Linked DNA regions of Homo sapiens: region 2 is linked to region 1. The links come from fine-mapping of genetic effects on gene expression. A gene starts in region 1. The other region holds a variant in brackets. All regions are shown on one strand. Distances are between the middles of the regions.

Region 1 (5,385 bases):
AAGTAACTTTATACAATATTTTAAATAATTTTGCACATGAAACAAAGGTTTGTGTTTTGACTGAGACCCATCACATAAGGTCAGGTGTGGAATTTTCCACTTGTGGCGTCATGTTGACACCCAAAAAGCTTCAGGTTTTGGAGCATTTCTTTTTCTTTCTTTTTTTTTTTTTTTCTGAGACAGGGTCTCTCTCTGTCGCCCAGGCCGGAGTGCAGTGGCATGATCTTGTTTCACTGCAAACTCCACCTCCCGGGTTCAATTGATTCTCCACCTCAGCCTCCTGAGAAGCTGGGACTACAGGCGTACACAAGCATGGCTGGCTAATTTTTTGTATTTTTTGTAGAGATGGGATTTCCCTATGTTGCCCAGGCTGGCCCTGAACTCCTGGGCTCAAACGATCTGCCTGCCTTGGCTTCCCAAAATGCTGAGATTACAGGTGTCAGCCACCACTCTCAGGCAGGTTTTGGAGGATTCTGGATTTCAAATTTTTGTATTAGGGATGTTTAACCTGTAAACTTCAACGCTTGGCAGTGTTGCAAGTGGTCTGCACTTTATCTGGATGAAGACAAAGAATGGTGCTAACATTTGTCTATGAACAGATGGGAAATCTTGCTGAGGAAAGGACAATGATTCTCAAGCAAAAGGGGAAAAGGGAGAGAGAAAAGAGAGCACCTGGAACTCAAGAGTATCAAGAATGGGAGGTGGCAACAGGATGATTTGCAAATAATATTTGGCTATCATTAGAACAATAAACTCTTCACTATACAAGGTTGTATGGTGTATTGGAAAGAGCATGAAATCAGAGAAACTTCATTAGACTTCAAGTTTTGCTCTATATTAGCTGTGAGATTTTGCCTAAGACAATTGACCATTCTGATTCCACAGTCTTTATACATGCAAATGCTAAAACAGTTGTAACAGTGGAGATACATTGTGAAAAATGTGTCATTGTGCAAACAAAATAGGATGTACTTATGCAAACCTAGATGGTATAGCCTACTACATACTTAGGCCATATAGCATAGCCTATTGCTCTGACCACCATCATATATGCAGTCTGTCATTGACCCAAATATTGTTATGCAATGCATGACTGTAATAATAATAATACTTGCCACATAGGTAAAAATACTGTCATTAACGGTGTAGTAAAATGGTAACTGGCATAGTAATGCTGTAAATTGAATACAATTTTTAGAAGGTTTTGAGGAGGGAGGTTCAGAACTGTTCTCCATTGATTTGCTTAACAAAGATATTTTCATTTTCCACCAAAGGGTTTGGCTGTGAAAACCTTTGCAGAAATAATATTTTAGGAGTTTTTTCCCCCTGTACTGTCAACTGATTTTTAGTAAGCATATGACTTTCTGTATGTATCATCCAATTGATTTAAAAATGAATCAATGAATGTATTTATTGATCGCCTGCCTCGCTTCACAAAGGAATGTGAGGAAGGACACCCAATTTGGCATTGCTGTGTTTCTCTGTATTTGGGTCATGCATTTTTTCTTGCTTTCCACATTGAAAATGTGGTGGATGCAGTAGATTGGCTTTAAGTGTCAGGCCTTCCCTCATTTACTATACCTTTTTGTGTTTCACAAGCTGGAAAGCTACCAACTACATGCTCTAGACATCCTTGCTGCTAATATTCTGCATGTCAGATTGGTCTCACCAATGGCACGCAGCAAAGCAAGATTTGCAGGTGCTGTTTTCTTGCTGCTGGCAAATGCAGCCGTGGAGACCACCGTTTTTTGCAGCACTGTTCCAGTGTCCTGTTAATTGTTCTGTCGGTGTTGAGAGGAGGTTGGGGACCAGGCATGGCAACTTCCTGACGCCATCTTCCTGATTGTGGGCAGCAGCCACAATCAGCAATCTTATCTAGGTAGTCATCCATGGATGTTCAGCTCAGCCCTTCTCCAGCCTTTCCAATGATTTCGAATGTCCCCAATTCCCCCTAACGAATCCCTTTCTGACTAGGAGTAACTAGCTGAGTGCTGCAATGAAATCCTGACTGACAGATTTGTAAACTCTTTGCGGGCAGGAACCCTTGATATAAATAAATGACCTTGCATTTTAATGGAGGGAAGCAGAAGGATAAACAAATGAATAAGTGAAAAGTTTTAATAAGATGGTGATGCGTAAAAAATAAAGCTGGTTAATGGGGAGTGCAGGAAATGAGCGCAGCTGTCTTGCCGTTTTAATCAGATAGGTCAGAGAAGGCTTCTCTACTAGGGTGGCTTTTGACCTGCCTCTCTGTTAGGTCAATTGTGTGCGAGGCCCTGATGGAGTTACTGTGTTAAAATGCAATGATTCAATTACTCCATTACTTAGATACCCTTTAAGTGACACTACGGTTGTCCATCTCCCCGCTATTGAATTGTTTACCCACAGTAAGCATGGCGGGAAGAGCTTCGATCCGACCCTTGAACGCTCAATAAAAATGGCGACAGCACTTCCTGTACTTGCCCTCAACAAAGATGGTGTCAACACTTCCTGTTTAGGGTTTTCGCCATTAACAAAGATGGTGCTTATGGGGCAGGTTCCCTAACAGTCAGGATTCCGGTTGCAGTTTTTCTCCCCCGCCCCAAAGATACGTGGTTGCAGACGTAAGTAACAGGAATCCATCTTTCTTTGAAAGTCCTGCATTGTAGCGTCTGCGACCTGGGCCCTGCGGGGGCTTCCCCGCCCCGCTAACTTGCTCCGCATTTCCGATCCGGGCCAAGGCTGGGTGGCTGCGGCAGTGCCGGAGGCCCGCTCTCCCCTTGGTCCGCTCTTTAGTTCATTCCCAGCACTCCCTCTTTAGCGGGTCAAGTTGCCGCAGAAACCGCCCGTAGTCTTCCTGTTTGATACAAGGGTTTCAGCGGCCGAAGCAGAGCCTTTTTAAATAGTTCCCAATGGGCGCTCACGGCCAAACGTGAACACCTCCCCTCCTCACCTGTCACCTCCTGAACTTTACAGGGTTGCGAGGGGGAGTGTGGGATCGGGTGTCGCCTAGCCGTGGTCGTACTGCCCGGGTGTGTCTGAAGCCCCATCTGTCATCCCTGCCTGCCTTCCCGGTCACTTAACCTTCACTGCCTTACACACAACCAAGCCACAGCACACTGGTGCAGGGGTGGTGGAACTGCACCTTCAAATCGTGCCTGGCTACTGACCAGTGCTGGGGTGTGTGCTTTTTTTGAAAGAAAAAAATCCCATAAAATGTCCCATGCATGTGCGGCCACGACAGTGTTGTGCTGGAGATTCGGAATTCTTAGTGGGAAGGAATGGAGTCTGTGACTGTATATTGTGTAAAGTTTATTGTAGACTGGGCACAAACAACAATTTTCTTAAAGGTGATCGTGTAGAGGACTTTTAGCGAAAAGAGCCTTAAATTCTGAACCTGCTGATTTCTGTCCTGCACTCCTATTACTGATCAGGTTTTGCAAATACTTGTGATCAAAAAAAGGGGACCTGCGTCCACCTTGGCAGTTTCTGCCTTGGTGGTGGTGGTGCAGGTCTGATGAGGGCAATGTGAAAATAAAACCACCATTTCTTCTCCAGCGTGTTAAAATTAGTGCTGCTCTGTAATCTTCAGATAAAAATTGCTTGTTCAGAAGGGTCTCTGACCCACTTTTTTTTTTTCTTTTTCCAAATTTCTTTATTGAACGAGGAATTGAGCTGGGACCCCATTGTGTGAAAAGCAGAAACAGAAAAGATGATTCATCTTCATTGTTGTTCATTATGTTAGGAAACATTCAAAATTAACCTGGCTTGGCTTAATCAGTGAATTAAATACCATGACCTGGCAGTCTGCTATGGTTTAAAGATGTGCTTGACCTGAAGGAACTTACATTGCAGTGACACTGTCTTTAGGGCCACATCAACATGTCTGTAATTTGAGCTGTGATTTTGGCTCTTTCCAGGGAGAAATGGAGGCCAGAGACAAACAAGTACTCCGCTCACTTCGCCTGGAGCTGGGTGCAGAGGTATTGGTGGAGGGACTGGTTCTTCAGTACCTCTACCAGGAAGGAATCTTGACGGAAAACCATATTCAAGAAATCAATGCTCAAACCACAGGCCTCCGGAAAACAATGCTCCTGCTGGATATCCTACCTTCCAGGGGCCCTAAAGCATTTGATACATTCCTAGATTCCCTACAGGAGTTTCCCTGGGTCAGGGAGAAGCTGAAGAAGGCAAGGGAAGAGGCCATGACCGACCTGCCTGCAGGTAGGCCTCAGAAAGATCACTTTGAACCAGCTCCAAAATGTTGTAACTATGCTCTTTGCTTTTTTGTTTATTTGTTTGTTTGTTTTTGAGACAGAGTCTTGCTCTGTTGCCCAGGCTGGAGTGCAATGGTGTGATCTCGGCTCACTGCAACCTCTGCTTCCTGGGTTCAAGCAATTCACTTGCTTCAGCCTCCCGAGTTGCTGGGAATACAGGCATTTGCCACCATGCCCTGCTAAGTTTTGTATTTTTAGTAGAGATGGGGTTTCATCATGTTGGCCAGGCTGGTCTCGAACTCCGTACCTCAGGTGATCCACCCACCTCCGCCTCCCAAAGTGCTGGGATTACAGACGTGAGCCACCACACCTAGCCAGAACTATGCCCTTTGGATTTGAAGTTGGGATGTAAGGCAGGACAAGGGTCAATGGTTGATGAAAGTGGGTAAGGATTTGGGACTGAAGGGACATGACGTTGGAGGAATAGGATCAGGAGGTGGCATTAGGAAGTGCAGGGAAGGAAGAATGAACCGTGACTGGGAGGTGAGGGAGGGAGCTCAGAGAATGCATTTAGAAATGCTTCCAGGAAACCTGGCATGTCACTTGGGAAGCATGTTCTCATCAGAGAGCCAGGTCATATCTCAGCCGTTGGCATCAGGAGCCATTTGGAAAGTGCAGATGGGAAAGCAGGCATTCGGCCTACTGACAACTGATTTGTGAGGTGCCAGAGCTACCAGCTGGAAAAGGTCAGATTCATGGAGGAGGAGACAGCCTCTAGGAAGGCATGCCCTGCACCTGTCCCCTGGGCTGTCCTGTGTGGCCAAAGGGGATTATTTTGAAGGCTGACTTAGTTTGTTTTTAAAGGTTATTCGTTTAAAGTGTCCTTTTTAGTTTAGCTTTGTTCAGACACTGGAGTATTTAATTTTGCAAAGAGCAATAGTTTGGGGAGGGTCTCAGTTTAATTTGAAGGAGAATTGGAAGCTGGAGAAGAGAGAAACAGTTCTGGTTCTGTTAGCCTGGCTTGTAGCAGGAAGAAGATGTGATATGGAAACACTTGCTTTTTCTTAACCTCCCTTGACTCTGTTTCACAAAGATAGAGGGGCAGAGAACTGAACTGGCAAAAATTAAAAATTGAAAAAAAAAAGTAATTGAAAGTTGGCTTGCAAATTTTTAACAAAGTTAGAGAATC
Region 2 (5,385 bases), 160 kb after region 1:
TACTTCAATATCATCCCTAGGAGTAATATTTATGCACTATACTTTATTCCCCTTAGAATTTTGGAGGAATTGTTTCTTTATCTTTTGCATTTAAAATACTTTTGAAAACAATGACTGACTTTCCCCTCATTGTAGGCAACTTGGCTTGTTCTGCTTGAAGAATTATTTCTTGGAACTGGAAATTTAATTATTGAACCAGGGTACATGTTTCAGTTAATTGTTTCATATTCATTTTTTGTAAAAACGAAGTATGCTCTTTTGACTTAGAGCTCTGTTGCTTGCTCATTTTAGGGATATTTTCTTGTATTGGATCTTTAAACACTTTGGCCTGGGTTCTCTACTTCAGGAATACTCATTAATCTTTCTGATGGATTATATTTTTTCTCCTCTATGTCTATCATTTTTCTCTGTAAGTTTTGCCTTTTATCTTGATGACCTGAAGGCTTCCTAGGATATAAATAATTTTGAGCCATGTTAATTCTATTCCTTGGTGTTTCTCACTTATTAGTTTATTCCTTGGAGATTGTAGATTTTTGGTTTTGGCCCATTTTCTTCCACATAATGCTCTATTTTTAATTCATGTGTTACTCTGATATGTTACTCACTTGCCATGCTGTTTCATTCCATCTTGCATATGTTTGGGTGACTGTGGCCTTTGGGGCTCTGATCCACTGGGGTGATTTCTCCTTGACACCCTTCTGACCCCTGTGTATTACCCCTTGAGGACCAGGTATTTCCTGTCCTGTTCACTTTTCTTCAGGCTATAGGCACATGTAAGCAAAAGAGCAGGGCAGGAAAGTGAGCTCACCAAGTTGTTTACGCGTAGGCCACCCTATAATGCCTGTGCTGTGCAATCTCTCCTGAGAACATGCAGAATGTCTTCTCATTCTGCCAGGGACAGTTAGTTCTCGTTGTCCACATTTTTTATCTCCTGTCGCTTCATGTAGCAGTTACCATCTCCACTCTGCTGAAATTAGAGGAGAAAAAAATGTAAGAAACCCACTTAATTTTTTCCTCTTTAGATTTGGGGATAGTAGAGTGAATCTCTTAGAGTTGAGTTTGGGTGAATAATTGATAGAGCTTCAGGAAGGTAGGAATTGGAAAGTGGCTCTGCCATCTTTTTTGATGGGCTTCATTTTTATTTTATTACCTTTTCTTCATTCCCTTAGGTGTTAGGGGATGGAGACTCTGGGGTCAGGCCTCACTCTGCCATATTTACCCAGAAGCCTTCTTGGGGCTTGCCTGTCTTTCTCTTTTCAAATGAAACATGGATGTGGGAAAGGGGAGTTCATTGTAGCCCAGTTTGGCATAAAAAGAGGTAACAGCCCACATCTAACCTTGACAATATTTTACCATTATGGAGTTTCCTCTCTTTTTAATTTTCTGTTCACCCTCAGATTATGCAATGTAATTTCTCTGGTTTTAAATACAAAGTAAATTAAAAGTAGAAGCACTTGGTAATACTGTAGCTATAGAGAATAAAGCTAAGTGAGTATGTTATCATTGTAATGAATCATTCCTTTTCATTCATTCACTCATCCAGCAAATATGTAGTGAGTGCCTACTATGTGCAAGGCACTACCCTGGGTGCCTGGAGTACATCACTGAGCAGGATGGACAAAGCTCCCCTGCCTGCGAGACACTTACATTCCAGCAGGCATGAGTGTGTAGGGTTGGGGGCAGGCAGCGACAGTAAATACAGCACATCTATAAAATATATCACACGTTACAAGGTGATTTATGGACAAAGGGAATGACAGTGGAATGGGAGTTGCAGTTTGGAATAGGGCAGTCAGGGCAGCTGCCCTGAGAAGTTATATTTGGTGAAGGGGTCAGTGAAAGAGTGTCCCAGGGAAAGGGAACAGCTCGTGCAAGGCTCTCTGGTTCGCAGCTGGCTGCTGTGTTCAAGGAACCGGATGAATGACAAATTGGTGGAGCTGTGTCTGGTCCATGTGAGAGAAATGAATGGCCCAGCAAACTGTAACATTAATTGTTTTTACTGTTTTGAAAATTTACTGTACCAGATATTCATTTCACGTTTTTGTTTGTTTGTTTGTTTGTTTGTTTTTGTTTTTTTTTTTAGAGGGAGTCTCGCTGTGTCGCGCAGACTGGAGTGCAGTGGTGCGATCTGCACACTGCAACCTCCACCTCCTGAGATCAAGCAATTCTCCTGCCTCAACCTCACGGGTAGCTGGGATTACAGACGTGCATCACCACGCCCAGCTAATTTTTGTATTTTTAATAGAGACAGGTTTTCACCATGTTGGCCAGGTTGGTCTCAAACTCCCGACCTCAGGT[G/C]ATCCACCCGCCTCGGCCTCCCAAAGTGCTGGGATTACAGGCATGAGCCACCGGGCGGTTTCCATGTGTGATCTTTAAAAGGCAGAAACAAATAAGCAAAAATCATTACTAAAGGCCCACGAGGGTTGTTTCTATCTTAGAAAATGTGTAAAGAAAAGTGATACAACAATAAATGGTTTGATTTAATGAGAAGTCAAAAATCATAAGATCTGTTGAAAATAACAAAATCACTTCTAAAAAAGATAATATGTTTTATTGAAATAAAGCCTTAGAAGTCATCTGGTTTTACCTTTTACAAAGAAGAAAGCAGTCTAAGAGAGGCCAAATGACTTATCCCAAGCTATACGGCTAGGTAGTAGCAGATTCAAATTTATACTACCCAGGCTTCCTAATTCTTAGCCCAGAGCTGTGTCCACCCTACCACCCACCTTTTAATTCAGTGCGAGCTCAATTATTGCTAACAGTTTTATTGTTGACCTTCCATGGACTCGATAGTCAAATCAAGTCTTCCATTACAATAAATGGGATTTATTTGTATTTTGCAACATAACCTTGTTCTTTGGAGTGGGTTTCACTTAATCATCCTGGAAATCGGTTTTAGAAAGACTAAACATGATTTCTCCATCTCTCTGTGAGGACCAAATTGTTCTCTGTGATTATCTATCAGAACAAGCAGAACAAGGGGTTCTAATTAGTTTTCCTTTTGAGGTTTTTTTTTTTTTTTTTTTCTTTTTCCAGGCAGTCAGTCTCTCAGCCAAAGGGATTTTTCTGCAGAGCCTTTGTACTCAGGGACCAGGGTTAATTCATGAGTCCTGGGAGGTGGCTGATCAGGTTAGTTTTTCCAGCCTGGAACAGCCCCGCCCTACCCCTGACCTCCTCCACTCCACCACTCTACTCACTCCACTCACTCCACTCACATTAGCTACAGAGAAACTGGATGTTGTCAGCCCCAGGGGTACCGTGAGACAGCTGGGTTCAGAGTGACTCTTGACCTTCCCTCTCTCACTCTCTCCCTCCCTCCTTCCTTCCCTTCCTCCCTTGCTTCTCTCTTTCTCTCTCTTTTTTTTTTTTTTCCTTTGCGCTCATCAGTTTATGGTCTACTTCACTAATTGGTCTGTGAAAAGCTTCTTCCTTTTCCATTCATATACTCACTCTTGTTCCCCCTCCCTCTCATAGATAAGGATAACTATTCTGACTGATATGTATTCCTTTATTTGTGTGTGTTTTTGTAAGTGGTGTTTTGGACATACATTCTTTTTTGTTTTTTGAGACAGAGTCTGGCTCTTTCACCCAAGCTGAAGTTCGATCAGTGACACAATCAGGGTTCACTGCAGCCTTGACCTCCCTGGCTCAGGTGATCTTCCCACCTCAGCCTCCCCACCGAGCACCTGGGACTACAGGTGTGCACCACCACACCTGGCTAATTTTTTGTATTAATTTTTTTTTTTGTAGAGATGGAGTTTTGCCACATTTCCCAGGCTAGCCTTGAACTCCTGAGCTCAAACGATCCACCCGCCTCGACCTCCCAAAGTGTTGGGATTACAGGCGTGATCCATGGGTGCCCGGCCTGGACATATATTCTTAATTTGCATTTGTATAGACCTGATTCTTTTCCTTACATTTTTTGCTCTCCACTGCATTTAGTCCATCCCCTCTAACTCTGCCAGTATTCCCTATGTGCTGTTTTGTATTTCTATATCTCTTCCCCCAGCAATGAGCTTTTAGATTGCTTCCAACTCCTTTCTTCCGACAGTATTACCTCATATAAACAACCTCATAGTGACCCCTCATGGATCTGTGTAGGAATTTTCCTGAGATGGAGATATCTATACCTATATCTATATCTCCCAAAAGAGGGTTTCTGGATTATAAGATATACGTGTATTTGCTAGCACAAATAACGAAGCTTTACACAAACAACCTAATACATGTCCCTTACAGGTCTTTTTTAGAACTTTTCTTGGGTACGTCTAACAGAACAAGATTGGAAAGTACATTCAATTTTACCCACACTGCCAACTTGCTGGCCAGTACGACTGTCCGATCTTTATTTCCATTGGCGGTGAACAACGTTCTCTACATCACGTCCCAGCCTAAGCTTGGTATTGTCTAGATTTCTATACATATAAAGTGCTTTATCATTGTTGTTTACATTTGTTTCTTAAATTTCTGCATTTGAGCATCTCTTTATGTGCTCGCTTTTGTGTTTCCTCTAATTCGAATCACCTGTTCATACCTTTGTTCTGTTTCCTGTGGAGGTTCTTACCTTTGCTGTTGGTTTTCAGAAACACCTTACCCAGCCTAGATAGTGTTTCCCTTATTGGTCTTAGACATTAGCCTTGGTCTTAGACATCAGCTTGGATCACGTCTCCTTCATTGAGCAGAAATCCGTAATTTTGATATAAAAAATTTACCTTTGGGAGATTAATTTTAAAAACCACTTCTGACCACAGGCCATAAAGATACTCCTGCCTTATTTTCCATGAACTTTATAGTTTTACCTTTTACCTTTGGGACTTTATCTCCATGGGATCCACCACTGTTCATGGTGTGATGCTCTAGGCCAGTTTTCTTTTCCTCTGTAATTAGCTAGTTCTCCTCAGTTTGGGGAAAGCCTCTTCTTTCCCCATTATGGAATTTTAATTGTCACAATAGGAATTGGCATCTTTATATTATAACAATGTCATCCCATCTAGCACAACAGGGACTCTCCTTTTAGTCAGATCTTGCTTTATGTCTTTTAATAAAGGCTTAAAATTTTCCCCATGAAGGTCTTATACAGTCTTTATTAACTTCATAGATCCTTTATCCTTCTCATTGCTTATTGTATTTTTATTATGTTTTGTATTTGATTATTGTAAGAGTGTTGAAATGCTGCTTTGTAGTTTTTTGCTTTAAGTTGATCTTGTATCTGGCAATTTTGCTCAGTCCTCTTACTCTAATAGATTATCTGCTAATCCTGATATTTTTCTATGTATTAGGTCATATTGTCTGAAAATAATGTTAGTTTTATCTCTTCCCTAGAAATGCTTATTATTTATAACTAACTAATTTCTTTTTTTTTTTTCTTCTTTTTTTGAGATGGAG

Direction of the effects. Positions count from the first base shown, and alleles are read on the strand shown. Sizes are in standard deviations (SD) of each study's normalised expression.
As copies of C replace G in region 2, the expression in monocytes after interferon gamma of the gene that starts at base 2,506 in region 1 goes down (moderate effect, 0.58 SD a copy in Fairfax 2014).

Evidence for each region. PIP is the estimated chance that this variant, and not a neighbour inherited with it, causes the effect. A credible set is the group of variants that fine-mapping cannot tell apart.
Region 2: its variant is the best candidate, but not a certain one, in a credible set for the expression of CRADD in monocytes after interferon gamma (Fairfax 2014, PIP 0.63).

Annotation. Positions count from the first base shown.
Region 1 is chr12:93,674,870-93,680,254 of GRCh38, forward strand. CRADD (CARD and death domain containing adaptor protein) reads left to right here and starts at 2,506. Exons shown (of 3, transcript NM_003805.5): 1 at 2,506-2,603; 2 at 3,900-4,203. The coding sequence starts at 3,906. RefSeq lists enhancers at 1,747-2,562, 2,351-2,590, 2,563-3,377, 4,194-5,008.
Region 2 is chr12:93,835,208-93,840,592 of GRCh38, forward strand. All of the region lies in intron 2 of CRADD (CARD and death domain containing adaptor protein), which reads left to right. Among named protein-coding and RNA genes, the nearest start is that of CRADD-AS1, 100 kb to the left of the region's middle. The variant G/C (reference allele first, on the strand shown) is at 2,299.